4 linked regions of the Homo sapiens genome follow. The protein of the gene in region 2 interacts with the protein of the main gene of each other region in a biochemical or structural test. Each region holds a gene or a part of one and is shown on either strand. Other genes may lie near its edges.

Region 1 (7,317 bases), on a different chromosome or scaffold from region 2:
ACTGTCTGTCCTCAGGATCCCCCCTTTCTGTTCCACTCGTTGAATGGTCCAGAACGCACCCCCCAACACCAAGTCTGTGCCGCAGGACGGCCGTTGTCCAGCAGGGACCCACGGGCTCACCCGGGCCGCCGCAGACCTGGCCGTTGTAGCGCTCACAGTTGATGGTGTCACACTCGCAGTACTGCCCGTATATCAGCTTGCCGGGGACGTCGCTGGTGTGGCACAGGCACTGCCCGCAGACACAGTCCCCCAGCCCTGAGCAGATGATGGAGTTGTTGTCCTTCCGGCAGCTTCCTTCCAGCTCCTGGCTGCTCCGGCCCTGTGTCTGGCACTCACAGTTTTTCCCAATGTAGCCAGTGTCACACCTGGGGACAGGAGGGGCCCCAAGGTCAGGCTCCCCCCAGTGATGTGGGACAAGGGACAGCCGCCCTGTCCTCCAGGCCCCTTGCCCTTGGTGGAGAACACCCCTATGGCACATTTTGCTTTCCTCGAGGCCTACTGAGCACTTGCCACGGACTAAATGTGCTCAAAACGTGCAGGGGCCCCGCGTTCCCTCCCCAGGATGTCCCGAGGGGAAAGCAGACACCTGGCCTTGGCCTGCGCATGCAGTGGCTCGGCAGGCTCACTGTGGAGCTGTGTTGCAGCCATGCACATGGCCTGTGCTGCGATACCGGTGCTCTGTGAGTGGCTGGTGTCTGCTCCTGCGTGCCCCACATGGTGGCCAGTGGGGACTCGGCACTGCCTCCTGCCACAGCCCCGCCCTCCCTCCTGCGTTCGTGCACTGACAGGCCAGGTTGTGGGAGAATGCAGGGACAAGGGGTTTTTACAGATGTGGAAGCTGGCATCAAGCCGCTGGCAGGCAGGAGCCACACACACCCTGAGGCATCCTCAGAGACGGCACTGCCACGGGCTCTCCTGCTCCCCAGAGGAGGAAGCTGCAGGACCGAGTGTCTGAGTACCTGTGGCAGGGCACCCCCCGACACCTGCCAAGTGTTCCGACTGAGTCACCCCTACAGTCCCGTGAAGAGGCCGCCCCAGGGCTGCACACCCAGGACAGTGGGCGGGGTGGCCACTGAGGCACGAGGACAGCAACAGAGACCACCAAGACCACAGAGACCATCATTGTCCTGAGATATGGGAGGAGGCTGGGGGCAGCAGGGACCTGAAGGTGAGGAAGGGCACTGCCACCAGGACGTGGATTGGCACTGCGGTCAGGACAGGGGAGGAGGTGACCAGAGCAAAGGGGGCAGAGTCCTGGGAGGTCAGCCTAGCAGCTCTGGCCAGGCAAGCAAGGAAAGGGGGACAGCCATCCAGCCCCCGGGCAGGCCGCCTGGCTGAGTGCCATGTGAACCTCCCCACTGGGTCCACCTGTCCCCCACTTCTCCCTGAGGTGGGGTGCCCACGCCTGGCAGGGGGTGTGCACGCCCAAGAGGTGGCCTATGGGGCCCAGGCTCCCAGAAGCCATCACCTGTCCCAGGAGGCTCTCTAGCCACCCATGCCCCAGGGCTGCCAGCCTGATGGCCTTGGGTCCCCAAGGTCAGAGAGAAGCCAGCTCCTAGGGTCAAGGAAGGTCGGGCAGAGAAAGTGACCCACTCAAGGCCATGGGCACGCCCAGCGGGGACTCCTTGTGCCCCTGAGATGGGCCTCCATCCTCTGGTGAGGGGGTCCTCCTGCCCACAAGTCCCCTGCCTTGGGTCCTCCATGGCCAGAGAGTGTAGAGTACAGGCTGGCATTGCTGGTGCCCTGGCTCAGGAGCACGGGTGAGGGCTTGCCGAGGGGTTCTGGGTTCCAATCCCAAATCTCCCCACCTCCTGCAGAAGGGGGCCCCCAGGATGCCTGCTCCGTGGGGTGGGGGAAGGGATGGAGCCACCTGCACCCACCTCACCTGCCGACACCTGCCCTGTGGGGTGGGGCTCGGGGATGGTTCAACAGGGACCTGCGCCCGCCTCACCTGCAGATGCCGCACTCCAAGAAGCCCTTGCCATGGCAGAGGCTGCGGTCTCTGCTCTGGTCCCGGCACCGGCACTCACACTGGGGAAGAACCTGCACGGTCACTATGTCCGTGAAGCCCAGCGCCCGGATGACAAACGACTGCTCCTGGATGCACTCTGTGGCCGTGACCTTCACCTGGAAGGTGATCTGCAGGGCAGTGCTGGGCTCAGGTGGGGACCCTCGGTGGCCAGGGTGGCAGCCCAGCTCCCAACCCTCACCTCCTGGCCTCTGCAGGGGTCCTGGGGGGTTCAGCGTGGGGAGGAAGGGGTGACCAGGAGCAGGAAGAGCTGATGCTCAGATCCGAGAGCCAAAGTCAGCCGGCAAGGAGGTGCTCTGCCCGCACTCCCGCACTGGCCGGCACCAGGATCTCCCCGGCCACACATCAGCAGAGACATGTGACACGCAGACAGCAAATCAGGAGAAGCTGAGCACACTCCCACTCAGACCACCCAACATGAGGGAAACGTTCTGGTGAGAATCCATGGGACAGCTGGGCGCCGCGGCTCACGCCTGTAATCCCAGCACTGTGGGAGGCCGAGGCGGGTAGATCATCTGAGGGCAAGAGTTTGAGACCAGCCTGGCCAACATGGCGAAACTCTGTCTCTACTAAAAATACAAAAATTAGCCGAGCGTGGTGGCACACGCCTGTAGTCCCAGCTACTCAGGAGGCTGAGTCAGGAGAATCACTTGGATTGTAGTGAGCCAAGATCGCACCAGTGCACTCCAGCCTGGGCGACAGAGCGAAACTCCATCTCAAAAAAAAAAAAAAAAAAAAAAATCCACAGGCAACATTTACCAAGAAACATGTTTGAAGGAATTCCAAAGTCATATTAAGAAAATGCAATGAAAGCAAGTGTCTTGCTGAATATTATTTCACAGCTAGCAAAAAAAAAAACAAAAAACAAAAAACAAAAAGAAACAACAAATGATTGGATAATAAACTTAAACCTGAAAGATTAGAGAAGGAACTCAGTGTCCATTCCTAACCACCTGTGTGGCCCATGCCTTAATGTTTCTGTCAAAAAAACAGAATGAAACACGCAGAAAATCATGACAACTAACCCTACCCAGGTTTGCCGTTTGCGCCTGTTCTGTGTGTCCGGCGTCTGCCCCCAGGGGGCGCAGCCATCACTCCATCCCTCAGTCTGCAGTGGCCTGACCCAGGGATTTGGGCTCCAGGTTGATGAGTAGGACTCTTGGGGGCCAAGGCGTGTGTGAAGAACCCTCCCAGCACCCTCTCACTGAGAAGCACCCTCTCGGCACCCTCTCACTGACGTTCCTGACATCAGCTTCACAAGGAAAGCGTCTGGCCTCGGCAGAGAGGATGTGAAGGAAAGAAACAGGGTCCTTCCAGTGGATGCTGCCTGCTCCCAGACAGCCTCTGATGCCTGTGTGCCCCTCCCTGCCCCCGTCAGAGTGCTGGGATGGGGACCCTGGCTCCTTCTGGCTGTCCCCAGGACCCCTCAGTGTGCTGGGATGGGGACCCTGGCTCCTTCTGGCTGTCCCCAGAGCCCCTCAGCAAGCTGGGATGGGGACCCTTGTGGCCAGGCTCACCGGGACATTGATCTGCACGCCATCACAGTCACCTCTGGGCTGGTTCCTGTGCGTCACTCCATTGCTGCAGAAGGAGTCGTAGGTGACTTTCAGGGTGTCGGGGAGGGCGTTGTGATCCAGGAAGACCCTGGAGGAGAGTTTCTGCGGGCAGAGAGCGGTTACTCTTGGGGGCGAGTGTTTCTGTTGTCCTGGCCCTGCCTGGCCCAGCGGTTTAGACCCGTCTCCACTTCTCCTCTCAGTGCAAGTCCCCAGTGTCAGCTAATGACACAGAGGAGAGCACAGCAGGATGTGCTGAGGATGGCAGGGCTGCCAGGGCCACAGTCCTGCCCTCGAGACAGCCTGACCACAGGGACTAGCATGGAGCCAGGGTGTGAGCCTCAGGGGTGGGAGCTTCTGCTGCTCCTCAGCCTTGAGTCCCCAGGACCTAGCACAGGGCAGGAGCTGCATAAATTGTTCAAGCGATAAGAGAGATGGGGAGAAACAGAGAGAGGCAGAGACAGACAGAGATGGGCAGAGCCAGAGCCAGAGACAGAGAGATGGAGAGAAACAGAGAGAGGCAGAGACAGAGACAGACAGAGATGGGGCAGAGACAGAGAGAGACAGACAGAGAGAGACAGAGAAAGAGAGACAAAGACTGAGAGACAGACGGAAATTGAGAGGAGGCAGAGGGACAGGTTCATAGGGGCATCGGGTGAATGGCCAGGGCAGTGGCGTCACCTGCATCCTCTGTGTAAGGACAGAAACACCTCGGGCAGTGGCTGGCACCCAGGAGGGTCTGCTCTGGGGGTTTGGGGCTCACGGGAGGCTACGAGAAGCAAATGGCACCTCCTCCACGGGCCTTCAGTTTAATTCAATGACCCAACGTTTGTCGGAGGCGCTAACGTGCTGAGCTCCCTCAAGCCAGCAGGACCTTTGGCCTAGAAGGATCCAGGCCAGAATTCTGAGAACATCTCTCACCTGGGGGTAGATTTCCAGAGCAGTCGGGACCTCTGGTGCCTGGGGCCCTGAATGGCACCTAGTGCGCACCTATGCCTACCTATGCCCACCAGGGCCATGGGCTCCCCAGGGGAGCAGCCCAGGGTGCAGCTCGATGGGCCGTGCACCAGGGAGAAATTCAGGGGTTAAGGGCTTCTCTGGAGCTTGCCCAGGACAGGTGAACAGAGCAAGAGGAATTCCACCCCCCAGGGTGTCTTCCCAGGGCCCAAGTCCACTGTGGGGGTTTCCTGTGGCCTCCTCCTGCCCCAGCTGCACTGTTTGCCACCAGAGCTGTCCACCTCCCTTCTCCATAGAGACCCGCAGAGAAGAGTCTGGAATGAAGAGTCCGGAGCTCAGGTTTCAGGGAGCATCGCCCACAACATCAACGAGAGAGGACCCAGAGCTCCCCGTGGAAGTGCCGGGCCAGGGTGTCCTGGAGGCCTGAGGGCAGGTCGGGAGGCTGCAGCTGGCCCACGGGGCAGGGGCTTTCCTCCCAGACCACCCTCCTGCTGACCTGCAGCAGGAGCTGACCTGCAGTGGGGAGATTGCTGGCCACCCCATGGGTCCCAGCTGAGTGGTGCGGGAGACTCACATTGTAAGCATTCTTAATGAGATGGACCACATTGCTGGAGTCCTCAGACAGCTCCCCCACGGCTGACTTGGGGATGATCTCGGTGAGTTTCTGTTGGGCAAGAAGACCAGACATGGCACGGCTAGGACCTGTGCCACGGCATCTCCACGCACTGGGCTCACCCCAGGGGCTTCTGCACCTGCAAAATGGCTGGGACGGTCCTCAACGCAGTTTTGCACTTGGTCCCCAGAGTGTGTGGTCAGTGATGTGTGGTAAGAGGTTCTTGGGGGTAAAAAGCCCTGAGCTGCCCAGGGGCCACGCCTGGAATACCAGTACTCGGGAGGCCGATGTGGGAAGATTGCCTGAGCCCAGGAGTTCAGGACCAGCCTGGGCAACATAAGAAGACCCCATCTCTACAAAAAGTACAAATATTAGAGTGGTGTGGCGTCACATGCCTGTAGTACCAGATACTCGGGAGGCTGAGGCAGGAGGATCACTTAAACCCAGGAGGTGGAGGTTGCAGTGAGCTGAGATCGCACCACTGCACTCCAGCCTGGGCGACAGAGCAAGACCTTGTCTCAAAAAAACAAAACAAAACAAAAAAAACCCAGGCCAGGCATGATGGCTCACGCCTGTGATCCCAGCACTTTGGGAGGCCAAAGTGGGTGGATCACTGAGGTCAGGAGTTTGAGACCAGCCTGGCCAACATGGTGAAACCCCGTCTCTACTAAAAATACAAAAATTAGCTGGGCGTGGTGGTGGGCACCTGTAAGCCCAGCTACTCAGGAGACTGAGGCAGGAGAACCCAGGAGGCGGAGGTCGCAATGAGCTGAGATCACACCATGGCACTCCAGCCTGGGCAACAAGAGCAAAACTCTGTCTCAATAAAATAAAATGAAATGAAATGAAATGAAATGAAATGAAATAAAAAAATAAATAAAATAAAATAAAATAAATAAAAAATAAAAAAAAAATTACTGTTGCATCATGAGGATAAGAAAAGAAAGCAAAGCCCTGAGCTGCAGCATTGTCCAGGCCTGCCCGTGTGAGTCCTCCTGCCTGCGGTGTGAGTGATCCCGCCTGCGGTGTGAGTGCTCCCGCCTGCGGTGTGAGTGATCCCGCCTGCAGTGTGAGTGATCCTGCCTGCGGTGTGACTGCTCCCGCCTGTGGTGTGAGTACTCCTGCCTGTGGTGTGAGTGATCCTGCCTGGTGGATTTCAAGCTCGCAATATCACTGGGTTGGGAGGACGTGCATGGTGGCCAGTGTTGGCCAGAATTTCCACCACACAGGTAGGGAATTCCTACCACCACACAGATGGTAGGCGGAAGTAGCCCCACGAGGGTGGATCACAGTAAAATCACCAGGAAGCCATCGGCTCTTGGCACTCTACTGAGTTTCCATGGGTGTTAAACAGCCCGGTGACATCGGTTCTGGCCGGCCAGATGCACAGGGGCGCAGCCAGCCTCCCCCATGCTCACACATGCTCAGCTTCTTTCATGGAAGATTGCGGCATCATTTCACCTTCCAGGAACACGGAGCAGATGGTCGGGTCACCTCCCCGCCCAAACCCTCCCATGACTGCCCTGCATGGGCCCAGTCCCTTCCATGGAGCTCCTGGGGCCGGTCACAGCCTGGCCACCACCCTCCTCTGCGCCCTCCGCCCACCGCCCACTTCCATCCGTCCCAGTCTGGGGCCATCCCTGTCTTGGGAGAGCTGGGCCCTCCCACATCCTGTCCTGCTGAGCCTGCTGTGCGCTTGGTGCAGAAACACACTCGGAGGGGGCGTGGCACGTGTGTCCACACTCGCTGCCTGTTGCCTTGACCACCCCCGAAGGTGACCAGGAAAGGCTGAGGAAGGCTTGTGTGCCCCAAGGCTCAGCAGTAGGCATGGGGTGCACTCTACCTGCCTCCAGTGCCTGGCCCTGGTGCCACACCATCGCCTGGAGTCTGGCTGCCATGACAAATGGCAAAGGATTGGGACCTGCTACTGCTGGTGAGGAGGGGACCGTCATGGCCACCTACAGATGGGACACAGGGCTGTGACATCCTGACCAGCAGGTGGTCTCTGTGGATGTCCGGCCCCAGCCCTGCCCTGCGCTGACCCACTGTCCCGGCAGCCTGACCAGCTCTGGGTGCCCACTCGGAGGGTCCCCCAGACACCTGCCCCCATCCCGTGTCTCCCGCAGGGTCCTGCTCCCACTCCAGAGCCCGGGGAACCTATGGCA
Region 2 (7,317 bases):
ATCTAGAAACCAAATATACTGATTATGTAACTATCGTATCAAGGTACAGACATTCTTCACATGCTACAAGGTTAGCATTTCTCTCTCTCATACACACACAGAGTACACACACACACACACACACACACACACACAGTCTCTCTCTCATTCTCTCTCTCTCTTGCTCAGCCATACAACACCCCTCCAGGATGATAGTATACCAGTGAGGAGCTTACAATTTTAATACAAATCAGAATCCCACAGTTTGACTCGACAAAAAGGCAGTTAAAAATTTAGCACTCTTAAGATATTCTGAAGGAAAATGAAATTTCGAAAGTATTTCTTGATGATCGAGGCTATGGTTATGAATTATAAAACATATACCTTACACACTCCATTGTGTTTGAACAACCAGTCATCACAGATGTAGTAGTGAGGTAGTATTGTTGTCCCCTCCTCGGGACTGATGTTTTTATATGCTGCCCTTCCAGAAAAGGTCCAGGTTTTAAAAAATAACATTAGTTACCAACAAATGTATATTTTCTTTTTTTAACTAATCATTTGTTTTTCTAAATCAGTCTATAAAAGAACAAAACTTTTAAAATCTTGCAGAGGCTGTTTCATCAGTAAACTCTCCTAGGGAGCTACTACTGCTGTCTAAACCTCTGTGAAATGGTAGGCAAAAAAAGCCATCAAAGGATCACAGGAGATAAAACACCAATCAGTGTAAGCTGTTAAAGATGACTGTGATTAAATAACCAAATATCAAATATCCAATAAGGTAATTAAATTTAGATTAAAAAAAAACTAAGCACCAGCTGTACATACATTATTAAATGTTCTAATCTCTTTCCTGATTCATAGCCATATTCTACATGATGATCAAAGACTGTCCACTGTGCTACCTACCATCATTTTAAACACTGCCTGATCTGTATGATGGTGGAATTATGGCTATGGACATGGCAGATAAGAGAAGGGCACACTGAGAAAATGTGAGTGAGAGAGAATGTGGAAATAGGTTAAATATGGAAAGGGCAAGGGAAACCCATTAAAATGTTCACCATTATCCTTTAAAATGTACACAGAACTGAAACCACACATACACATTTGTCAGACGTGATAATTAGTGTTAATCTTCAACAGAAAAAAAAAAGAAAAAGAAAAAAAATGTGAAAAGAGGCAATGGAACACCATTCTCCATTCCCTGGACCAAAAGAAAAAAGAAAACCAAGCATGATATCATACTGCCTTAATGTTGAAGAGCTCCCCTTAAATTTGTCTTTTAGCTAGCACAGTCAAACTGGTGTAAGTGCTTTGGCAAGGTGGGATGCATTCCATCATATCTGCAAAGGCCTGCTTTTCTCTGTTGGTGGTTCAGCTTATGAAGAACATATATGCAAAATAACAGCTCTCACATTGCTTCAAACTCATCGATACGCTGCTTTGTATTGCCTTGTCGAATCTGTCGCAGAGTCTTGTACTTATCACGGCCTGCTTTAACATTCTCAGCATGAAGAACATCATTTTGTGTTTTCTTGGTTTCATCTCTGGCTTGGGCTAATTCTGAACTTAATGCCTATTTAAAAAATAAAAAGTACAACTATTATTTTTTTCTTAGATTTAAAAAAATTTATGAAAATGGCTTTAAGATGCAAAAATACATATACCAAATCATTTCCACTGTGAAACCTTTTTCTTTAGGTATAAGTTTGTTTTAGTAATAGTGGTGGCAGTGGTAAGGGAGGAATACACATGGCCTTTCCACATTTATCAACCATGGTATTTTGTACATTATTCTAAATTTCCTTAACTTTCTAATCTAATACTTGAAATGGCTAAAAAGTTCAATGTAGCCATTACAGACTAATATTACTATGAGATTTAAAATCTATACCTCAAGGGAAGCCTTCTCCAAAAGTCTTAATACATTTATTGTAACTATCACCTCATTTTCTTTTAATATTTAAAGATTTTAACAATTAAAATATTAGATAACTTATTGGGAAAAAAGAAAGCTCATAATATTAAAATCCTCTACTTTGACCTAGTTATGTCCATGTAATATACTGACCTTTTGCCAATATAAAATCTCAACAAATAATTAAGATTATGTAATGTCTTAAACATAGTATATTAACTATCATTCTTTCCAATGTACATTTTATTTTATTTTATTTTTTTGAGACAGAGTCACTTACTATTGTCCAGGCTGAAGTGCAGTGGCATGATCTCGGCTCACTGCAACCTCCACCTCCCAGGTTCAAGCAATACCTCAGCCTCCCAAGTAACTGGGATTACAGGCTCATACCACCATACCCGGCTAATTTTTGTATTTTTGGTAGAGGCAGAGTTTCACCATGTTGGCCAGGCTGGTCTTGAACTCCTGGCCTCAGGCAGTCCACCTGCCTCGGCCTCCCAGAGTGCTGGGATTACAGGTGTGAGCCACTGCGCCTGGCCCTCAATGTACATATTACTGATCAAAAACTAAATTCACGTTTTTCAACATGACATTAGAATACTTTCTACCTTTTAAAATGGGTCAAGCTGTAATTAAATAACTCACTAGTTAAGGTCTGATTATACAAAGCTAACAGGTATTTGCTAATGGGTTCACACAACGGAAGAAATGAAATAACATGACTATAGGCCAAACACCCACAAACCAATCACAAGGGCAGCCAGTATTAAAACTTCTATATTCTTTTTAACTAAGTTTGTCTAAGATGGGGAAAATGCAAACTATATTTCAAATGCACATACAACTGCAAATTTTAAATACCTGAAGTTGCTTCTTAACACGCTCATTTTTCTGTGTTTCGGTTACACGTTCTTCCTCGCTTCTATGGTTCATTACCCCTTCATTTGATAATTCAGCACTAGCTTCAGCATTATTCTCATCGTGTTCATCATGTTCGTTTTCTGTTGGAGGAATGACTGGTGGTGGTGGAGGTGGAGGGGGGGCAGACATCACAGTTTTTAACTCTTCTTTGGTCTTTTCCAAGTCTTCCTGGGCTGCAAAAGCCTGAACATTAAAAATACGTTTATGAGCAACTTACTTCAAAAATTAATAATCAAAACAATCAAGTTATACTCCCTTTTTAATAGAAACTGTATTTCAAGGTAATGAAAATAGGCCCTATTTATGAAACCTCTATTTTCATAAAAGAATGTCAACAGGTAAAAGAGAAAATCAAAAACATTATTATGCAAACCCTATTAGAATTACTCTGTGAGCTTCAAAGTGACAGATTAAAAGAAAAACAAGCATACATGCAAAAAAAGAACTATTAATTCTGGCAAGGATTATCAATTGTTTGCTAAAACTGTTGTGCAAATAGTTGATGAGAAATAGATATTCATATAATGCCTAAGAATCTCACACCCAATAGATTTTATTTGAGCCACAAGGGGAAAATGTAACCGAATAACGGAGGAATGAGACTGTCGTTACTCAAATCCAATGATCACTAAAAAATACTAATGGTGAGTTAACTAGATATTAAGTGTCTTCTGATATGATACAACCTGAAATATCTAACATCACCAATTATTTGGGTGATCATATTATCTTGGTTTACCTGGAAAAGTCCTGTTACACTGTTGTCCTGGTGTAATTATGAACAATACCCCCTTTTTCTCAAAAGTACTCCAGTTTAGATGTTCAATTATATGGAAGTCTCACCTTTGATGCACTGTAGTCAAAACATTTAATTTGAATTCCCCAGGTTCTAGATCTAACTTCTGGTTCAAAGGAAATACTGGAGTTAAAGGATAAGGTCAATGACACAAGGAAGTAACTAAACAAATATAGGAGGTGAGACATTCTGTAGGTCCCTTCAATAAATCAAAATAATAAAAAGAGAAACTGCCCTCCATTAAAAGAGACTTACAGCAAATACAGACAATGCAAAGTCCTCTGAACACTTGTCTGGCAAATTAGCTATGAGACTTTTTGGGAAATTCTTAATATAGTCTAATATTCTGAGATGAAAATTGACTAAAATGAAATAGTACATACAGTAAGATTTCATGTTGAATATATAAACAGGAAGTATCCTGGAAGAATATGTACTAAGGTTTTGCAGTATTTCCCCTAGTTTATGGGAATACAATTGTCTTTTGTGTGCATTTTCTAATTTTCTATAATTCACAGACTTGATATCTGTAATATGCTAATTTTTTAAAGTTTATGTGTCTCTAAATTTCATAAATCATCCCTAAAAGGGATCTAAAAAATTCTAATAAACAAGTAGAGTAACTGGGAAATTAACAGTAGCATTCCTTTTGTAGTTTTATTTATATATAACTAATTTTCAATACATATAAAATTACCCAATGAAATTTAAACTGCTACAAAGATTTACTTAAGAGTGCAAGAAAACTGTTTTCTGTATAAGTACATTTTATTGTAGAAAAATCATCTTCTAAAACTAAATATCATCTTTGGGGGTAAAAAAATTATCTTTTCAGTTAAGAGTTAATGTTGTTTGAATTAAACTCTCATTATCTTATATTCCCCCACTCTCCAACCAAAGCCTGATTTTACAATTGTGTGCTACTTTAGACAACAGTGGTTTCATCTACTTAGGACTCATATTAGAAATCTCGGTGTCAGCTGCACACAGTGGCTTACACCTACAATCCCAGCACTTTGGGGGCTGAGATGGGAGGGCTGCTTGAGGCCAGCAGTTCAAGACCAACCTGGGTTACACAGCAAGACCTCCATTCTCAACAAAAATAAAAATGATGGTGCATGCCTGTAGTCTCGGCTACTGCAGAGGCTGAGGTGGGAGGATCCCTTGAGCCCAGGAGTTCAAAGCTGCAATGAATTATGATTGTGCCACTGCACTCCAGCCTGGGACACAGAGTAAGACCATGTCTCTAAAAAAATAAAAATAATTCAACTTCATATCCAATCACTGGTTCCCATGCCTTTTTGTGACCACAAAATGTCTCTTATATCTTCCCATTCCTCTTTATTCTCATTTTCACATCCTCAGTTTGGGTCTTTATCTCTTAAGTATCCACTATCCCAATCCTTTCTTCACACTGATCACTACATGGTTTTTATAAAATCATATCTGATCATGTTACAATCCTGTTTTGAAATCTTCTAAGCCCCAAGTCAATCGATACTCCCACTGCCTTGCTGTAGCAGAGCATTTATTTAAAGCCTTTCACAATTCCCTATTATCAAACTTGAGGGCCACATCTCCTAACATTTCTGAACAACACTAAGCCTCGGCTGCTTATTGGTTATCCTCAAATCTATTATATACATTCATACTTCCTATACTCATTCAGTTCCCTCTGTCTAGAATGACTACTTCTTCAGTCTCTAACTATTCCCAATTTTACATCCCAATCTTTTGTACCCCCAAAATTTAATTCATTATTCAAGACCCAGCTTAAATGTATATGGGTCTCCCGACAACTCTCTGGTCCCCCAGAAATTAATCACCTCTTCTGTGTTCCCAAAGTACTTGGTTTATATCTGTAGATAGATATTTACAATACACATAACACGAGTATCTTTCCCACTCTAAATTATGACAGTATCTTACACTTATCACTACAAAGTCAGCATAATCCTGGGTATAAAAGCTATTCAATAAAAGCTAGTAAATGAATAAATGATTACTTTGTGTTGCCACTCAGTAGCTTCCTCTTCCTTTTTCTTCTTGGCTTCCTCTAGAAGTGCAATCTTGGCAGTGAATTCAGCAAGTTCTGCTGCCTAAAGTAAACAATATAATTCCAAAATTAAAATAACATATTTTGAATAATCTTATAAGTCAACAAAGTTTTAATGCACATGCTTAGGCTGTTTATGTTTTTCTTAGCCTTCCATTTAAAAAAATACAGTATTTCTTAAGATCTTAAATAGCTTATTTACAATAAGTCCTTTAGGTAATGAGCTAAGGAGACAAAATTAAAAAATTACTATTATTCTACAGACTAGTTAATCCTGCTTTCAGTAGCAGGAACTTAAAATGTGTAACTTAAAAGCTTTTTTAAAAAATTTCCATCAATAAACTATTTGTTAAAGTCCACAAAAGATAAAATATTTATCTAATGCTATATACTTTAAATGGCACTTTGTCAAATCATCTCATTTAATACCCCAATAATCCTAACAGGTAGTATCATTAACAGGTAGTATCATTCCTCCTTTTTTTTTTTTCAGACAGAGTCTCGTTCTGTCACCCAGGCTGGAGCCCAGTGGCACAATCTCAGCTCACCGCAACCTCCGCCTGCCAGGTTCAAGCAATACTCCTGCTTCAGCCTCCCGAGTAGCTGGGATTACAGGCGTGCACCACTGTGCCTGGCTAATTTTGTATTTTTAGTAGAGACAGGGTTTCGCCATGTTGGTCAGGGTGGTCTTGAACTCCTGACCTCAGGTGATCCACCTGCCTCGGCCTCCCAAAATGCTGGGATTACAGGCGTGAGCCACTGTGCCCGGCCATCATTCCTCTTTTCAAAGGGAGGGAACTGAGGCTCAGAAAGACCCAAAGACACATACATAGCAAGTACATGTGTGAACTAATATTTAAATCCAGGATCTTTTAAGTGACACGCTTACATCTAATTATTTGCAAGTCCACTAAATAAAAAAACCCAACCAATTATGGCCTCATAGGAACTATAACATATTATATATCTATAATATATTATATAACTATAACATATATCTATATTATATAACTATAACATATTAATTTATCTAAAGCAAAAGACGCCAACTGACTTATTACCGAACCTGTCCAATGTCAAAGTGAATCAGAACCTTTTGCTGACAGTAGACTCCATTTACAAATAATCTATAGAAAAATGCCTTATTCTTTTGTATTTTTAGGTTTTTGTTTAGGCAGAAATAAATTTTCTAGGTTTTTGTCTACATTTTGTTATTAAGTTACATGTTATCTTTGGCTTGCTCTCCAGAAAGCACAAAATGGTTGCTTTTCTTTTTTTCTTTTTTAGAGGGTTCACTCTATGCTTTTATTTAAACTTTTTTCTCTAAGAAGACAGTTCCTTACTAGCTGCTCCTGATTCTTCATCTGGTCGGCAGCTTGTTTTGCTATGGCAGACTTTGCCTCTTCAGCAGCTCGACGCTCCTTTTCAAGTCGTTCTGCTTCTTCTTTTGCTCGTTTTCGTTCTTGATCCAGTTCTAGAGCTTTTCGAGTCTGTTCTTCTAGTTCTATGAAATATGTGTATTCCCCCCAACAGTGATTAATTCCAATCATTCTCATTATCAAAAGAAGCTAAAATAGTAGCAAGAAATCAAATCTGTTCAATTTCTAAAAGTTAGCACACATGTAAATACATATATACCTCTTT
Region 3 (8,056 bases), on a different chromosome or scaffold from region 2:
GCCAGATCACTTGAGGTCAGGAGTTTGAAACCAGCCTGGCCAACATGGTGAAACCCCATCTCTACTAAAACATACACAAATCAGCCAGGCGTGGTGGCGGGCACCTGTAATTCCAGCTACTGGGGAGGCTGAGGCAGGAGAATTGCTTGAATCCAGGGGCATAGGTTGCAGTGAGCTGAGATCACACCATTGCACTCCAGCCTAGGCGACAGAGTGAGACTCAGTCTCAAAAACAAACAAACAAACAAATAAAGACAGCTTGGTAGTGGTACAAAAACAGACACATAGACCAATGGAACAGAATAGAGAACTCAGAAATAAAGCTGCACAGCTACAACCATCTGATCTTTGACAAGGCCAACCAAAACAAGCAGTGGGAAAACAATTCCATATTCAGTAAATGGTGCTGAGATAACTGGCTAGCCATATGCAGAAGATTGAAGCTGGGCCCATACCTTTCTCCATATGCAAAAATTAACTAAAAATGGATTAAAGATTTTAATGTAAGATCTCAAACTATAGAAATCCTGGAAGAAAACCTAGGAAATACTCTTTTCGACATTGGCCTTGGTAAAGAATTTTTGGCTAAGTCCCTAAAAGCAATTGCAATAAAACCAGAAATAGACCAGTGGGACCTCATTAAACTAAAGAGCTTCTGTACAGCAAAAGAAACTATCAGCAGAGCAAACAGACAACCTACAGAATGGGAGAAGATATTTGCAAACTATGTATCTGACAAAGGTCTAATACTCAGAATCTATAGGGAACTTGAAAAAATTAACAAGTAAAAACCAAATAACACCATTAAAAAGTGGGCAAATGACATGAACAGGCACTTTTCGAAAGAAGACATACAAATGGCCAACAAATATATGAAACAATACTCAGCATCACTATCATCAGAGAAATGCAAATCAAAACCACAATGAGATACCATCTCACACCAGTCAGAATGGCTATTACTAAAAAGTCAAAAAACAACAGATGCTGGCTGGCAAGGCAGCAGAGAAAAGCAAACACTTATACACTGTTGGTGGAAATGTAAATTAGTCCAGCCGCTGTGGAAAGCAGTCTGGAGATTTCTGAAAGAACTTAAAACAATTCTACCACTGGACACAGCAATCCCATTACTGGGTATGTACCCAAAAGAAATTATTCTACCAAAAAGACACATGCACTTGTATGTTCATCACTGCACTGTTCACAATAGCAAAGACATGGAGTCAACCCAGGTTCCCATCAGTGGTAAATGGGATAAAGAAAATGTGCTACATATACATTATGGAATACTAGGCAGCCATAAAAAAGAAAGAAATCATTCTTTGCAGCAACATGCACGGAGCTGGAGGCCATAATTCTAAGCAAGTTAGTGCAGGAACAGAAAACCAAATACCACATGTTCTCATTTATGAAGGGAGCTAAGCATTGAGCACACATGGACATTAATATGGGAACAACAGATATTGTGGACTACTAGAGGGTGCAGGGAGGTGGGGAGGATAAAAAAAAAAACAACTATTGGGTACTATGCTCACTACCAGGATGACAGGATCTGTACCTTAAGCCTCAGCATCATGTAATATTCCCATATGACAAATCTGCACATGTACCCCCTTATCTAAAATTAAAGTTGAAAAAAAATGAAACAAAATGACATTGAACTTCTCAATAGCAACACTGGATTCTACAAACTAATGGAAAAATAAACACAAAATCAGGGGGGAAAAGGTTTTTCAGCTTGGAACTTTATACTGCGTCAGACTCTCAAACAAAAATAAAGGTTGTCTAAGATATTTTCAGACATAATTATTATTATTATTATTATTAATAAAAGTTTATAACCCATATAAAGAAGTTAGTAGAGAATGTATTCCCCAAAAAAATGATGAAGTACATCAATGAAGAGCAAGACAATGAATCTAGGAAATAATGATCCGATACAGGAGCACAGACAAAGGGAATTTCAGAAAGAGATGTGCAGCTAGCCGGCAGAGTAACCAGCTCAGATGAAAAAAGAAGGATGGAGGGCTCTGGGAGGGAGCTGCTCCCATCCCTTTCTACCTCTTTCTCACCAAGTTTGGTGAGTTTTCCTTAGGATCTTTTTGGGCCCCTCAAGCAACTTTCAAGAACCTTGCATATCAGAGAAAAAAAGGGTTGGAGTTTCCAATCCTTTCATTCTGAGAAGACCTCTAGGTTCTTCATATAAACAGTCCCACTCCTTCCCCAGAAACTTTCTACCTCCACAAATAAATACTATAGAGGCAAGAATAAAATGTGGTTTTGCCTCACTAGAGACCCTGCTTTAAAAAATGTGAGAAACATCACCATATTCTTTTGGAAGATTGCCCTCAAGACCTCCCATTTTTCTTTGCTCTCCAAGTCTACATCCCCCCGGCTACCTTCTGGGGACCAAGGTAGTTCTTCTTGGTCTGGAAAATTTGCGTGCTTAAAAAGAACTGGACACAAATAATGGAATGGTCTTTTACCCACTGAAAATAAATAATCTGCTGTCCAAATTTATAAGCCAACCATATGCAAGTTCACAAGGCAATTTCTCAAGTCCTAATCCCTAGACGGCTCAGAGACTGAGGCCCATACATTGCATAGGAACCACACCAAGGTACAGCCATCCCATGAAGCCCAGGTGCACACCAGATTTGTTATACTAATAGTTCCAGGTTTACAGTGGTGAAGTTCTAATCCAGAGTTGAGAAATTCCCACCTGCCTTTACTTGGGAATCCTAATTATTTTAGAAAAAACTGAACAGTAGACAAAGAACTGTCAGAGAAACCCAAAGCAGGCTATTGCGGTCTGTATGGACAGATACACCTTTACAAGAACTGCACTGTGTCCTGCAAATCATTGGTCCTAGAAATGGGGGATTCTGGGGAAAAGGGGAAACTACTACAAGAATGAAAATGACTGGCTATGGGGGATGCTATCTATAAAAATATTCCAAGACTGACCCACTCATTGCCCCAATCCATTTCTTATATTACTCTAAGGTAAAGAAATACTTACCACAAATGTTTGTCCTTAAGACTGTCGCAGCTCATTCTGTTTCCTCGGCCAAAAGAATGTACAATACTCTCTGCCTGCTCCAAGAACAAAAGCCTTCTTGCTCTTAACATGAAAAAAAGTTTCAAAGCCAATCTGATGTCAGCAACTGAAAGTGTAGAGAAGCCTTGACTTGAAGTAGAACCCAGAAACAAAATTATAAATCATACACTGTATCACAGTAGAGGAAGGAGACCTAATTTTTTTTTTTATTTACAAGGACAAATCTGGAGAAACAGAACGCCCACTCAAGAGTTAGCCCGACAGTTTGAAAACAAAATACTTCTGCACAAAATGCAGAAGAAGCTGGGCATATCTTTTTTTGTACACGACAAATAAAAATTGTATGGTGTACAATATGATTTCTGATGTATGTATACATCCTGGAATGGCTAAATCAAGCTAATTAATACTTTCTTTACCTCACATATGTATCCTTTTTGTGGTGGGAACATGTAAAATCTACTCTCTTAGCAGTTTTCAAGTACACAATATATTGTTATTAACTATAGTTATCATGATGTACAATAGGTTTCTTGGCAGGGCGCAGCGGCTCACACCTGTAATCCCAGCACTTTGGGGGGCCGAGGTGGGTGGATCACTTGAGGTCACGAGTTCGAGACAAGCCTGGCCAACATGGTGAAACCTCATATCTACTAAAAATACAAAAATTAGCTGGGTGTGATGGCGGACACCTGTAATCCCACCTACTCAGGAGGCTGAGGCAGGAGAATCGCTTGAAGCCAAGAGGCAGAGGTTGCAGTGAGCTGAGATCACACCACTGCACTCCAGCCTGGGCAATAAAGTAAGACTCCATCTCAAAAAATATATACAAATAAAAATATGAAAAAAAATTTAAAAATTAAAAAATAGATCTCTTGATCTTTGTCCTCCTGTCTACGTGTAATGATGCATCCTTTGACCAACATCTCCCAAAACCCTGCCCCATCCTCTGGAAACCACCATTCTACTTTCTACTTCTATGAGTTTGACTTTTTTAGATTCCCCATAGGAGTGAGATCATACAGTATTTTTCTTTCTGTGTCTGGATTATTTCACTTAGCATAATGTCCACTAGGTTCATCCGTACTGTCACAAATGACAGAATTTCATTCTTTTTTAAAGGCTGAATAGCATTTGTGTATATATAGTATAGTATATATAGCATATACTATATACATAGCATATATAGCATATACTATATACATAGCATATATAGCATATACTATATACATAGCATATATAGCATATACTATATACATAGCATATATAGCATATACTATATACATAGTATATATAGCATATACTATGTATATAGTATATGCTATATATACTATGTATATAGTATATATAGCATATACTATATACATAGCATATATAGCATATACTATATACATAGCATATATAGCATATACTATATATACGAATGCTATTCGTATATATATACACTATATAGACACGAATGCTATCATTCATATATATATATATATATATATATATATACAGTATATATAAAAAATATTTTCTTGAGGTTGCTTCCATATCTTGGCTATTGTGAAGAGTGCTGCAATGAACATGGGAGTGTAGATATCTCTTTGACAGACTGATTTCATTTTCTTTGGATATATACCCAGTAGTGGCATTGCTGGATCATATGGTAATTGATAATATGACCATAAATGCCTGGATTTTTTCTGGGCCAGAACATTCATACTGTTTTCCATAGTGGCTGTGCTAATTTACATTCCCACCAACAAGGGCTCCCTTTTCTCCACATCCTCACAAGCACTTGTTATCTTATGTTTTTGATAATTGCTACCCTAACAGGTGCAAAATGTTATCTAAATGTGGTTTTAATTTGCATTTTTGTGATGATAAGTGATGTTGAACATTTTGTCATATACTGGTTGGCCATTTGTATGTCTTCTTTTTAAGAAATGTCTACTCAGGTTCTTTGACCATTTTTAATTGGGTTATTTACTACTTTTTGCTATTGAGTTGAGTTCTTTATATATCTTGGGTATTAACCACTTATCAGATGTATGGTCTGTAAGTATTTTTCCCATTCCATAGATGGTCTTTTGACTCAGTTGTTTCCTTTGATGTACAGAAAACTTTTTAGTTTAATGCTATCCCATTTGTCTATATTTCCTTTTGTTGTCTGTGCTTTTGGGGTCATATCCAAAAAATCTCTGCCTAGACTAATGTCAAGAAACTTTTCTTCTATGTTACTTATTTTGAATTGACACATAGCAAATACATACATATGTATATATATATATATATATATATATAAAATTTATGGAGTGCAGTGTGATGTTTTAATACATGTATACACTGTATAATGATGAAATCAGGGTAATTAGCATATCCATGACCTCATATATTTGTCATATCTTTGTGGTGAGAACATTCAGTTTGAGGTCTTACCTTTAAGTCTTTAATCCATTTTGAGTTGATTTTTGCACATGGTGTGAGATGTGTCTAATTTCATTGTTTTGCATGTGTATATCCAGTTTTCCCAACACCATTTATTGATGAGGCTGTCTTTTCTCCATTGTGTGTTTTTGGCAACTTTTTTGAAGAACAGTTGACCATAAATGCCTGGATTTATTTCTGGGCCAGAAGATCTTTAAGGTATGTCCCAACCTTAATATATGTAGATAAAGGTAAATATATATATCCAGAAAAGCTTATTAAAATACTATCATCCTTACTTGGTTCTTTTTTGTATGTTATCTATATAATTGAAAATGGACATGCATTTACTTTACAACAAGAAAATATAACACATATTTTTAAAAGATACCAAAAATAGAAGTGATCCTTTTAAAACTTAAGTGAGATTATGTCACTCCTCTGTTCATAATATTCCAGACTTCTACTGGAATTCAGAATCAAATCTAATGTCCTTATCATAGTCTACACAGCTCTACATGCTCTCATCCTTCCATACCTAATTTCAACTCCTACCAATCTCCCTCCATTTTGGTCACAGTGACCTCCTGGCAGTACCTCCAATATGCCATGAAAGCTCCTATCTTGGGGTCTGGGCATTTGCTGTTCACATGGCCTGGATTCCCCTTCATCCATATATATGAATGGCTCCCTCTCTCACTTAATTCAGTTCTCTGCTCAAATGTCACCTTGTCAGAGAGAACTTCTTTTACTACCATATCTAAAGTAGCACCTGCTATCATTCTCGGAATATTTGCTTTGATTGCATAAACACTAAAACTTTCTGTGCAATATAAAAGATACATTCTTAATGATTAATTGACACAGAGAAAAATATTTGTGAAATACATGACAACATGCACATATTCTAATATACAGAATTATAATGAGTAAAAAAGGTGAGCAACTTAATAGGACAATGGGTGAAGGAAGTGTAATTGACAAAAGAGGAAATATAAACACCCACATGTACATGGAAAATCTATTGGAACTCACAAATAAGCAAAGAAAAGCTAATATTACCAAGAGTAAACACTATTTTTCCTTTAATCCAGGAGTTGGCAAATTTTTTTTTCTGTAAACAGCTAAGATAATAGAAATGTCCCCCTTTGTGGGCCACATATAGTCTTGGTCAGACATTCTTCATTACCTTTTTTTCCCTACAGCCCTAAAGATGCTGACTGGGTTGCTGACCCCAGATCTATGAGGAATGATTAAAGATGGAGAGCACTTAATGCTGAGAATGGGGAGGGTAAACTGGCTGACTGTTGTTGCGGGCACAGATTCATATAGCTTTTCTCAAAGACAGTTTGTCATGTACATATCTTTTGCCCCAGGAATTCCACATTTTTGACTTTACACCAAGAAGCTACTCGGGCAGGAATGGAAATATTTTTGTACAGAATACATTGCCATGTTATTCATAATAGCAGGCAAGAGGAGGAGGAGAAATTTATATAATAAACTAGGAAATAGTTAAACCATGTGCATGAAATAAATGAAATGCCACACAGCTATTTAAAAGTCATATATATATGAATTAATTTATATAGAACAATCATACGACTTTTTATGGTTTAAAATTATAGTGTGTATAACATAGTTCAATAGATACAAAATTATATATGTATATATGTTGTGTATATGTGTATATATACATATACATATTCAAAAAAATATGGTTACCTCAGGGGGGTTGTGATACTAAGTGACTTTTATGTTTATATTATTAGGTATTGCTTGATTTTGAGCAAGTATCGTCAGTATAATCAGAAAAAAATAAAATTCTTATTGAATTTAGCAAAACCTCAGGTCAATTAAAATGGACTTTTGCCTGAAGTGCAACAGTTTTCTAAACTTATTCTTACAATATAATAATGCAAGATAGTTTTCACAATTTGAACAAATAGTTTTTATGGGTTTTGTTTGCTTTCTGGTTTGTTTCTTGTACCAAAAGGACAGAGTTACTTGTTAACTTGTCTTAAAAATATTCTTTTGGGAATTCTATGATTTATGCATTTTAATCTCTGCCACCTCTTTTCTCCAACTCTCTGTGAACACTCATTGGCACCATACTGGTGTGATATTCCCAACCCAGGGCACAGAGAGTGGAGGTACAAGAAAATCACCCCACTGACCACTGTACAAGAGAAGCTAGGGAGTGGAAGAGTTGAGAGGAGAGGGATAATGAAAGGCATCCGAGAAAGTGCTCACTCAGAAAACGCACAGGGAACTTGTGTTCCCACATCGCTGTCTTTAATTTGCAGCCAAGCAATACTCAGTTACTCTATCATGGAAGCTTCCCATGTTTGAAAATGAAATTGTAAGTGAACAGAGGCATCAGAGCCCTGGTGTTAGGCACAGCACTTCACTTGTACCGTGTTTCACACAAAAGAACAGCTGTTATGGATCCACAGTGCAGATTTCAGTATCAACCAAAAAGGGTTCGCTAACAAAGTTACAACAGGACTTCAGATTAAAGCTGGTACATACGAAATGGGAGTACAGTACTAAACTGTTCAAACTTGCTACACTTTTATT
Region 4 (8,259 bases), on a different chromosome or scaffold from region 2:
CTGGCCAACATGGCGAAATCCCGCCCTACTAAAAATACAAAAATTAGCTGGACATGGTGGCGTGCTCCTGTAATCCCAGCTACTCGGGAGGGGTTGAGGCATAAGAATTGCTTGAACCCAGGAGGTGGAGGTTGCAGTGAGCCGAGATAGTGCCACTGCACTCCAGCCTGGGCAACAGAGTGAGACTCCATTTAAAATGGTAGTAATAATGATAATAAGGAGAGATAGAAAAAAAAATAGTGAAAAGAAGCAGATGGAAGATTTTATGAGATAATTTTACAACCTCGAATGAGGGTCTTGGGTTCCCACAAGACCCTTCCCTGAGTGAGTTGGTGCAGCTGGCTGAGGGCTCCTCCCCTCCTGGCCCCTCCTGGGCCTCTCCCGCAGACCTGTCCTTTCCATTATTTCCCTACTCGTGCTTGTCACTGTGCACACTTACCCCTCCTCCTTCTACTGTGAGTGATCATCCTGACTCATCAAATATGCGGGGAAAATGGAAACCTTATTTCGGACCCAAGTTTTTGAAGATGAGTGATAGTTGGATTGCCTCAGTGGGGCAGGAGATCCATTATCTAGCTCATTTTCACGAGGTAGATGCCAACTGAATTACAGTCCACTGATTTATTAGAGCTGTTTAAAGACAGGTGATCCAGTGTTCATTTCTCAAATGCTATAAAGATAATTTGATTGATTATATGCCCTTTGTGTTTAGGGAACCCAATATCCACAAGAATTAAGAGTCACCATTCTTATGCAAAAATCAAAGCCACTTTGATTTAAGAAATGCAGCAAGGGACCCGTGAGGGAAACCTTGAGCCTGGCTCTACCTGAGACAATGGCACCTGGGACAGCTGCTTAAAGACAAGGAAGAGAACACTAACCACCAAGAAAATGTCTCTACTGTGCACCAAGGAATTAGAGTTCAGAAACAGTGGTGTTAACTTTACCTGCTTAGCAAGATAGAGTTTGGTGGTAGAGGATCTCTTGGTCCTGGATTTATACACGTGGAGAAGCTGCCAGGGGGCCAGGAGCCATAGGTAGCCCAAGGGAATCCACACCAGAACAGTTTGCTCAAAACAAAGTGGCAGGTCTGCCTCCGGACTGTCCAGGAATGAGGAATTCTGGAGACCAAAGGGGAAGGATTGTTGCATACATGCATTGTGAAGACAGAAAACCACCCTGCAGCACATCCCACTGCTTTCACACAATTTAAATTCAACTCCATATCCATATCCAGCCTTACCCTTTAACTATCCGTATTTTCCTATTTGTGCACATGGATACAAATTCACCATTTAATGACAAATGTAGTCACTTTCTGGCCAACCCACCCTCCAAAAACGTGTCTTCTTGTGATTCTAAGTGAATTTTGTACCAGCTATTCTGAGTAAACCTCACCACTGCATTTGCCAAATTATAGGATGAAGAAGGACTGTTCCCCAGTTTAAAGGACAGAATAGTTCCCTGGGATATAAAAAATTATTCAAGTTTCTAGCACTAACTGAACTCACTGGCAGATATTCAAACATGCAGGCGCCATGCAGGGAGAATGCTTAGTCATACTGTAACATTTGCTCTCTGATGGCCCAAAGCGCTTACATTAAAAACCTGGCCAGTTTCAGCACAGCAGTGACAACAGCATTGTTGGACAGAAGGCTTCCAACCAGCAAGTTTTGTGCAGTCTTTGCATTCTGCGATAAATGGAAGTGTCTTGTGAAGTGGAAGTTGGGGGGTGGGGGGTGGGCACCAATTCTTGTATCTGAGTCACATGAGTGTGGATTTTTCTTTTCCTATAAATAGTTAAAAATTGTTTTATATGATTATTTATACAGACTCTTTAAAGAATTGCTTGCGATGCCCTGACCAAGAAAGTTTGTCAGGTAGTTCTCAGAAAGAATTCTCAAGAGATGGCCTGTCTAGATACTATAGCCCATGAAGATCCACCTTGCCGTGGTATACACTCCTGGCCTCGAGGGTCTTGGGACCCAGGTCCTTTCTAAGACACGAGGTGCTGCCCAGGTGCTCTGCTATCTCATCCCTGCCCCTCTCACCTCTATATAAGGTTATCAAATGTTAGAATTCAGAAGAATCACTTAAGATACTTAAACTACATTTATTGCCCCAGGTGATTCTGATGCTGAGGCTAGGAGTTTGCAGATGATACTTTCTCACCAAACCCTTACTAAAATCACTAAATCTAAGGTCCTTTTTTGTTTTCTATTCCACTAGACCTTTGATACTGTTGATTGGCCCCTATCTTGAAATTTTTTGCTATCTATGACTCCGTAATGTTACACTGTTCTTGTTCACCCTCTAAGTGGTGTCTCTTCTTTTCCTTAAAAACAATATTACCCAACTCTAGTTGTTCAAAAATTATTTCAATGCTCATGATGCCCAAAGTTGCATCCCTAGACTCAACTTCTAGTCCATATCATTAGTTGCCAGTTCTAGAACTTATCATTATCATTTCAACATCAACATGTCTCAGCAAGACTCAGTCACGGATCTTCTCTTCCTTCTACTAGCAAAGTATGCAACAACAATTCTCCTTCCTCACACGGATTAAATTGGAAGGTTTTTACCTGTTTCTCTTTAGAGAAGGCAATTTTGCGACTAGCTAGTACAAGAGTCTGATATAAAAAAACATATGACAGAGAATAATTTGCATTACATTTCCCAGATCTTATATCCTCTGGAGATATTATGAATTATGCTTTCTAAAAAGCCTGAGCTTTAGACCAATTGCACATCTAACATTTCTGGTTCTTGTTGGTGACCACCCTAAGTTAACTAACTACCACTTGTTCTGAGTCTGAGAAGAGTCAATATGAAGATAAATGTAATTTCTCACCCAAAAAGTAGAGTTGCAGAACTTCTCCAGCATGATTCCTGGACTGCGTCTGGAACGAAGACTCTTCTATTAATATGATTGTGTTGTTTCTTCTTTACTTGTTTCATCAAAGAAAGTGGAACAGGAATTATCTACCATTCTGATGTTCTCCGTAAAGGATGACCTTTCATCCCAACCATTTAATCGTTAACCTTGCCTAGATGCATGTTACATTGAAACAGTGGATGGACATGTGACTAAAAAGCCCTAGGGACAGGGAGACTCACCAGTTCCCAAAGTACAAGAGGCCTCTGTAGGAGTGGCCATACATAAAAGGAACCACTGAAAGATGTCAACAGAGCTGGCCAACAAATCAAGAGTGCACAGTCTTTCATTTTCCTAAGGACATATGACCCACAAAGGGCAGCATCAGTAGAGGGGCAGGCACCCCTAAATGTGCAGTTTCGCTTCTGCTGCAAGATCTTAGAGTTTATAGAAATGTGAAATATCCTTCTTCCTTAGATTTTTAATTAAAAATATAGAATCTAAAACATGGTTTAAACATGATGTAAACTTTCTTTGAAGAAGTCAGGTTATAAAATAGCTTATCCAGTGTGAGCCTATATGTTATATACATAATACAGGCTTTCAAAAGTTCTATTTGCCTGAGAGGTAGTATGCCAAATGGGAATGAAGCCTTTGCCAGGCATTGTAAATATGATATCATGATAAAACATCAGGGCCAGAGGAGAGGGGTGATTCTGTAAACAGAGTGGTGGCATCAGTCGCTAGAAACTGTCATCGACCCAACCTTTTCTTTTTTTGTTATTGTTTTTTGTTTTTTGAGACAGGGTCTTGGTCTGTTGCCTGAGCTAGAGTGCAGTGTTGCCATCATGATTCATTGCAGCCTTGACCTCATGGGTTCAAGCGATCTTCCTGCCTCAGCTTCCTGAGTAGCTGGGACTACAGGCACATGCCAACAAGCCCAGCTAATTAAAAAAATGTTTTCTGTAGGGACGGGGTCTCACTATGTTGCCCAGGCTGGTCTCAAACTCCAGGCTTCAACAATCCTTCTGCCTTGGCCTCCCAAAGGGCTGGGATTGCAGGCATGAGCTACCGTGCCCCACCTGACCCAACCTTTTGTACTGTCACTTAAATTGCTTTAAGAACATGCTTTTTTCATGATATCATGAACCACCCATGCGGTATCCTAGCTAAAACATAACCACCCATGCAGTATCCTAGCTAAAAAAAATTGGCCTTAAATCTGGTCAAATTCTAGATCTAACTACCGGATTATAAGAAACACAGGAACATGCTAAAGGACTCCATTGGAATGCAATTGTCAAAATCCAGAATGTGGGAGATTCTATAGTGCAAATGATTCCATTTTTTAATAAATAAATTAAAAGAAGGAAAGGAGTCAAAGGAACTTACAAATTACAAGAGAATCAAGAGGCATATCAGCCAAATGTGAATTGTATGGACCTTGTTACTGATTTTAAAAGTCAAGTATACACATAAAAAAAATGAAAAGGCAGCATTCAGTGTGGGAGAAAATATTTGCAGACCATATAACTGATGAAGAGTTAATATCCACAATATACTATAAGGAACTCATACAACTCAATAGCAAACATACACTAACAAATTAAAAAGTGGGCAAAGGACTTGAACAGACACTTTTCCAAAGAAGACATATAAATGGCCAACAGGTATATGACAACTGAATCAACTTCACAAGTCATCTGGAAAACACAAATCAAAACCACAGTTAGATACCACCTCATACCTATTAGGATGGCTATTACAAAAAAAAAAAAAAAACAACAAGATAAGTGCTGGCAAGGGTGTGGAGAAAAGGGAACCCTAGTATACTGTTGATGGAAATGTAAATTGGTCTGACCATTATGAAAACATATGGCAGTTTCTCCATCATTTTCCATACCACTCACCAGAAGAGCCAGGAAAGGTCAGCTGTGGAACTAAGAGATCTCACTTGGGGCAGGGTGCACCTTTAGGCTGCATACTTCTCTTGGCACTGGTGGTAGGACTCGGAGTCCGGGGGAACTCTTGGTAAAACTTTGAGAAATATAAGGTCAAGGATTAACACCTAATTTTCTTTTTTTAATTTTTTTGTAGAGCCTCAAACTCCTGGGCTCAAGCGATCCATTCGCCTCGGCCTCCCAAACTGCTGGGATTACAGGCATGAGCCATCGTGTCTGGCCTAAACGTTCTAAGTAATCAAAAAAAGAGAGGGTGGAGAATCTAAATGTTCATCAAAACAAGTTGCTTAAAGTATAAAATATGTACTCATAGGGAATATTGAATGAGAAAAGCAAGTAAGGAGCCAGGAAGTCATGAATCTTTCCTAACAATAACTAAAAATCTGAACAAATAGAAAAATCAATAACTCTTCTTAGATCTGTAGAGAGATAAGGTTACAGGGCAAACTGAAGAGATAAACAAGAGAATATCAAAAATCACAATTTACTGGCGCAGAAATCTCAGCAGGGGCCGGGCGCGGTGGCTCACGCTTGTAATCCCAGCACTTTGGGAGGCCGAGGCGGGCGGATCACGAGGTCAGGAGATCGAGACCACAGTGAAACCCTGTCTCTACTAAAAATACAAAAAATTGGCCGGGCGTGGTGCCGGGCGCCTGTAGTCCCAGCTACTCGGAGATGCTGAGGCAGGAGAATGGCGTGAACCCGGGAAGCGGAGCTTGCAGTGACTTGAGATCACGCCACTGCACTCCAGCCTGGGCAACAGAGACACTGTCTCAAAAAAAAAAAAAAAAAAAAAAAGAAAAAAGAAAAGAAATCTCAGCAGGAACCAGGGCTAGGGCAGGAAAACCTGAACTGTAATTGAATTGCCGGAGGCCCAGTGTAGATAAGTTTGAGAGAGAAAAATTCCAGAGTGACTCAGCCATAAGGAGGGGATGATCTCCACACTTTCATGAGTTTACCCATAGGAATTCAAAGAGGTTCTCAAATATTGTTCTCTTTTTATTAGAGAAAAATCTCCTCCTGCTTCCATGTCCCTGGCAGAGGGGATAGGAAAAGTAACCATTTGAAATATACCTGGACACTCTATTCTTCTCTTCTAAACAAAGTCTGCCCTTGGGAAAAACTGTTTAAATAGAGCCTAATGCTCTTGATTTATAGGAGCCTAAATGATGCCGGAGAAGGGAAATAAGAACTCCAGTCTCTTCTAGCCTTCCACATGAAAACTGAAAATACCCAGCTGCAGCCCACTCTAGCCATCACGTCCCACCTAACAGGGATCGGGGCAGATAGGAACTGAGAAGCACTTGTGAAATTCAGTCTAGAGACACAGGTTTACTAAAAGACTGAGACCTCTTCACAGAACTATAGAACTCTTCCTCTCCCCCTCCCCCACTGTATACCACACTACTAAAGGTCTAGTTACAGCACTTCCTTTTACTCCGTATATCCTGTCCAGCTATGAAGAAAACATTGCCAGGCATACTAAAAGGCAAAAAAAAAAAAAGAAAAAAAAAAGGCTTTAAAGAGACAGAGAGCAAGCCTCAGAACCAAACTCAGATATGACTGGGATGTTGGAATTATCAGACCAGAAATTTAAAACAACTATGATCACAATGCCAAGGGCTCTAATGGATAAAGTAGACAGCATACAAGAACAAATGGGTCGATGTAAGCAGAGAGTTTAAATTCTAAGAAAGAACTAAAAAGAAATAAATACTAGAGATCAAAAACACTGTAATAGAAATAAAGAATGCCTTTGATGGGCTTTTTGGTAGACTGAACAAGGCTGAAAACAGAATATTTGAACTTGAAAATAACTGCCAAAACTGCAAAAATAAGTAAGACTATATAAACAGAATCTCCAAGAACTATGGGACAACTACAAAGGGTATAACATATGTGTAATGGAAATAGCAGGAAGAGAATAACCAGAGAAAGGAACAGAATAAATATTTGAAGCAATAATGAAAGAGAATTTCCCTCATACTAATTTCAGACACCAAATCACAGATCACAGAAGTTGAGAGAACACCAAGTAGAACAAATGCCAAACAAACAAACAAAAGCCCTACAACCAGGCATGCATATATAAGTTGCAGGAAATCAAAGATAAAAAATTCTGAATGAAGCCCGGGGAAAAAGACCTTACTTGTAGAGGAGAAAAGATGAAAATTATGTCCAACTTTTCCTCAGCAAGCATGCAAGCAAGAAGAGAATGGAATGAAATATTTACAGTGGTGAGAGAAAAAAGCCACCAACAGCCAGCATTCTGTACCCACAAAATTATTCTTTAAAAGTAAAGAGAAGCCAGGCACAGTGGTGCGTGCCTATAGTCCCAGCTATTCAGGAGGCTGAGGTGGAGGGATTGCTTGATCCAAGAGTTTGAGTCCAGCCTGGGCAGCATAGTGAGACACTCTCTCTCTCTCTCTCTCTCTCTCTCTCTGTCTCTCTCTCTCTCTATATATATATATAAAATAATAATAAATACATAAATACATTCTCACACAAACAAAGACTGAGGGAATTTGTTGCCAGTAGACCTGCCTTGCAAGAAATGTTAAAAGAATTCCTATAGAGGAGTGGTCCCCAACCTTTTTGGCACCAGAGACCAATTTTGTGGGGAATGGTTTCAGGATGAAACTGTTCCACCTCAGATCATCAGGCATTAGATCTCATAAGGGTGTGCAACCTAGATCCCTCACATGCACACTTCACAATAGGGCTCACACTCCTATGAGAATCACATGCCTCTGCTGATCTGACAGGAGGTGGAGCTAAGAAGCCTGCTGCTCACCACCTGCTGTGCAGCCCTAACAGGCCTTGGACCAGCACCAGTTTGTGGCCCAGGTGCTGGGGACCCCTGCTTAAGAGAGAAGGAAAATGATATAGGTCAGAAATTTGGATTTACATAAAGAAAGGAAGAGCACTGGAGAAGAAATAAGGTGAAATAAATTATTTAATTCTAACTGACCTAAAAAATAGCAGTTCACTCAAAATAATAGCAACAATGTATTCAATCATGCATATTTCTGTGTATATTTTTAAATGCTTATGTATAACAAAAATGAATGACAGCAAAGACATAAGGGATGGGAGGGAGAATTAGGATTATTTTGTTATTATAAGGTACTCGCACTACCTGTAAAGTGCATAGTGTTCTTTGAAAGTGGACTTGGATTCATTGTAAATGTGTATTTAAAACTCTATGGCTGGGATCCTGGGCACTTTGGGAGGCTGAGGTGGGCAAATCACAAGGTCAGGAGTTAGAGACGATCCTGGCTAACATGGTGAAACCCCGTCTCTACTAAAAATACAAAAATTACCTGGGCGTGGCGGCACATGCCTATAATCCAGCTACTCAGGAGGCTGGAGAATCACTTGAACCCGGAAGGTGGAGGTTGCAATGAGCCGAGACGGTGCCAC

Evidence for each region.
Region 1: the proteins of RDX (region 2) and ITGB2 form a complex in vitro, tested with the Homo sapiens proteins (one study listed by IntAct).
Region 3: the proteins of RDX (region 2) and MCF2 form a complex in vitro, tested with the Homo sapiens proteins (one study listed by IntAct).
Region 4: the proteins of RDX (region 2) and ABCC2 form a complex in vitro, tested with the Homo sapiens proteins (one study listed by BioGRID).

The regions. Positions count from the first base shown.
Region 1 is NC_000021.9:44,889,858-44,897,174, forward strand, and holds part of ITGB2 (integrin beta-2 isoform 1 precursor), read right to left. Parts: intron 5,204-7,317; coding exon 5,114-5,203; intron 3,688-5,113; coding exon 3,547-3,687; intron 2,140-3,546; coding exon 1,952-2,139; intron 366-1,951; coding exon 121-365; intron 1-120.
Region 2 is NC_000011.10:110,230,476-110,237,792, forward strand, and holds part of RDX (radixin), read right to left. Parts: exon of another isoform or gene 7,230-7,317; coding exon of another isoform or gene 7,178-7,229; coding exon 7,017-7,177; intron 5,717-7,016; coding exon 5,624-5,716; intron 3,005-5,623; coding exon 2,762-3,004; intron 1,559-2,761; coding exon 1,394-1,558; 3' UTR 1-1,393. UniProt on the Homo sapiens protein: Probably plays a crucial role in the binding of the barbed end of actin filaments to the plasma membrane.
Region 3 is NC_000023.11:139,705,084-139,713,139, forward strand, and holds the start of MCF2 (proto-oncogene DBL), read right to left. Parts: upstream 3,085-8,056; 5' UTR 3,023-3,084; intron 1-3,022. UniProt on the Homo sapiens protein: Guanine nucleotide exchange factor (GEF) that modulates the Rho family of GTPases. Promotes the conversion of some member of the Rho family GTPase from the GDP-bound to the GTP-bound form. Isoform 1 exhibits no activity toward RHOA, RAC1 or CDC42.
Region 4 is NC_000010.11:99,777,470-99,785,728, reverse strand, and holds the start of ABCC2 (ATP-binding cassette sub-family C member 2), read right to left. Parts: upstream 3,090-8,259; 5' UTR 2,885-3,089; coding exon 2,852-2,884; intron 1,122-2,851; coding exon 948-1,121; intron 1-947. UniProt on the Homo sapiens protein: ATP-dependent transporter of the ATP-binding cassette (ABC) family that binds and hydrolyzes ATP to enable active transport of various substrates including many drugs, toxicants and endogenous compound across cell membranes.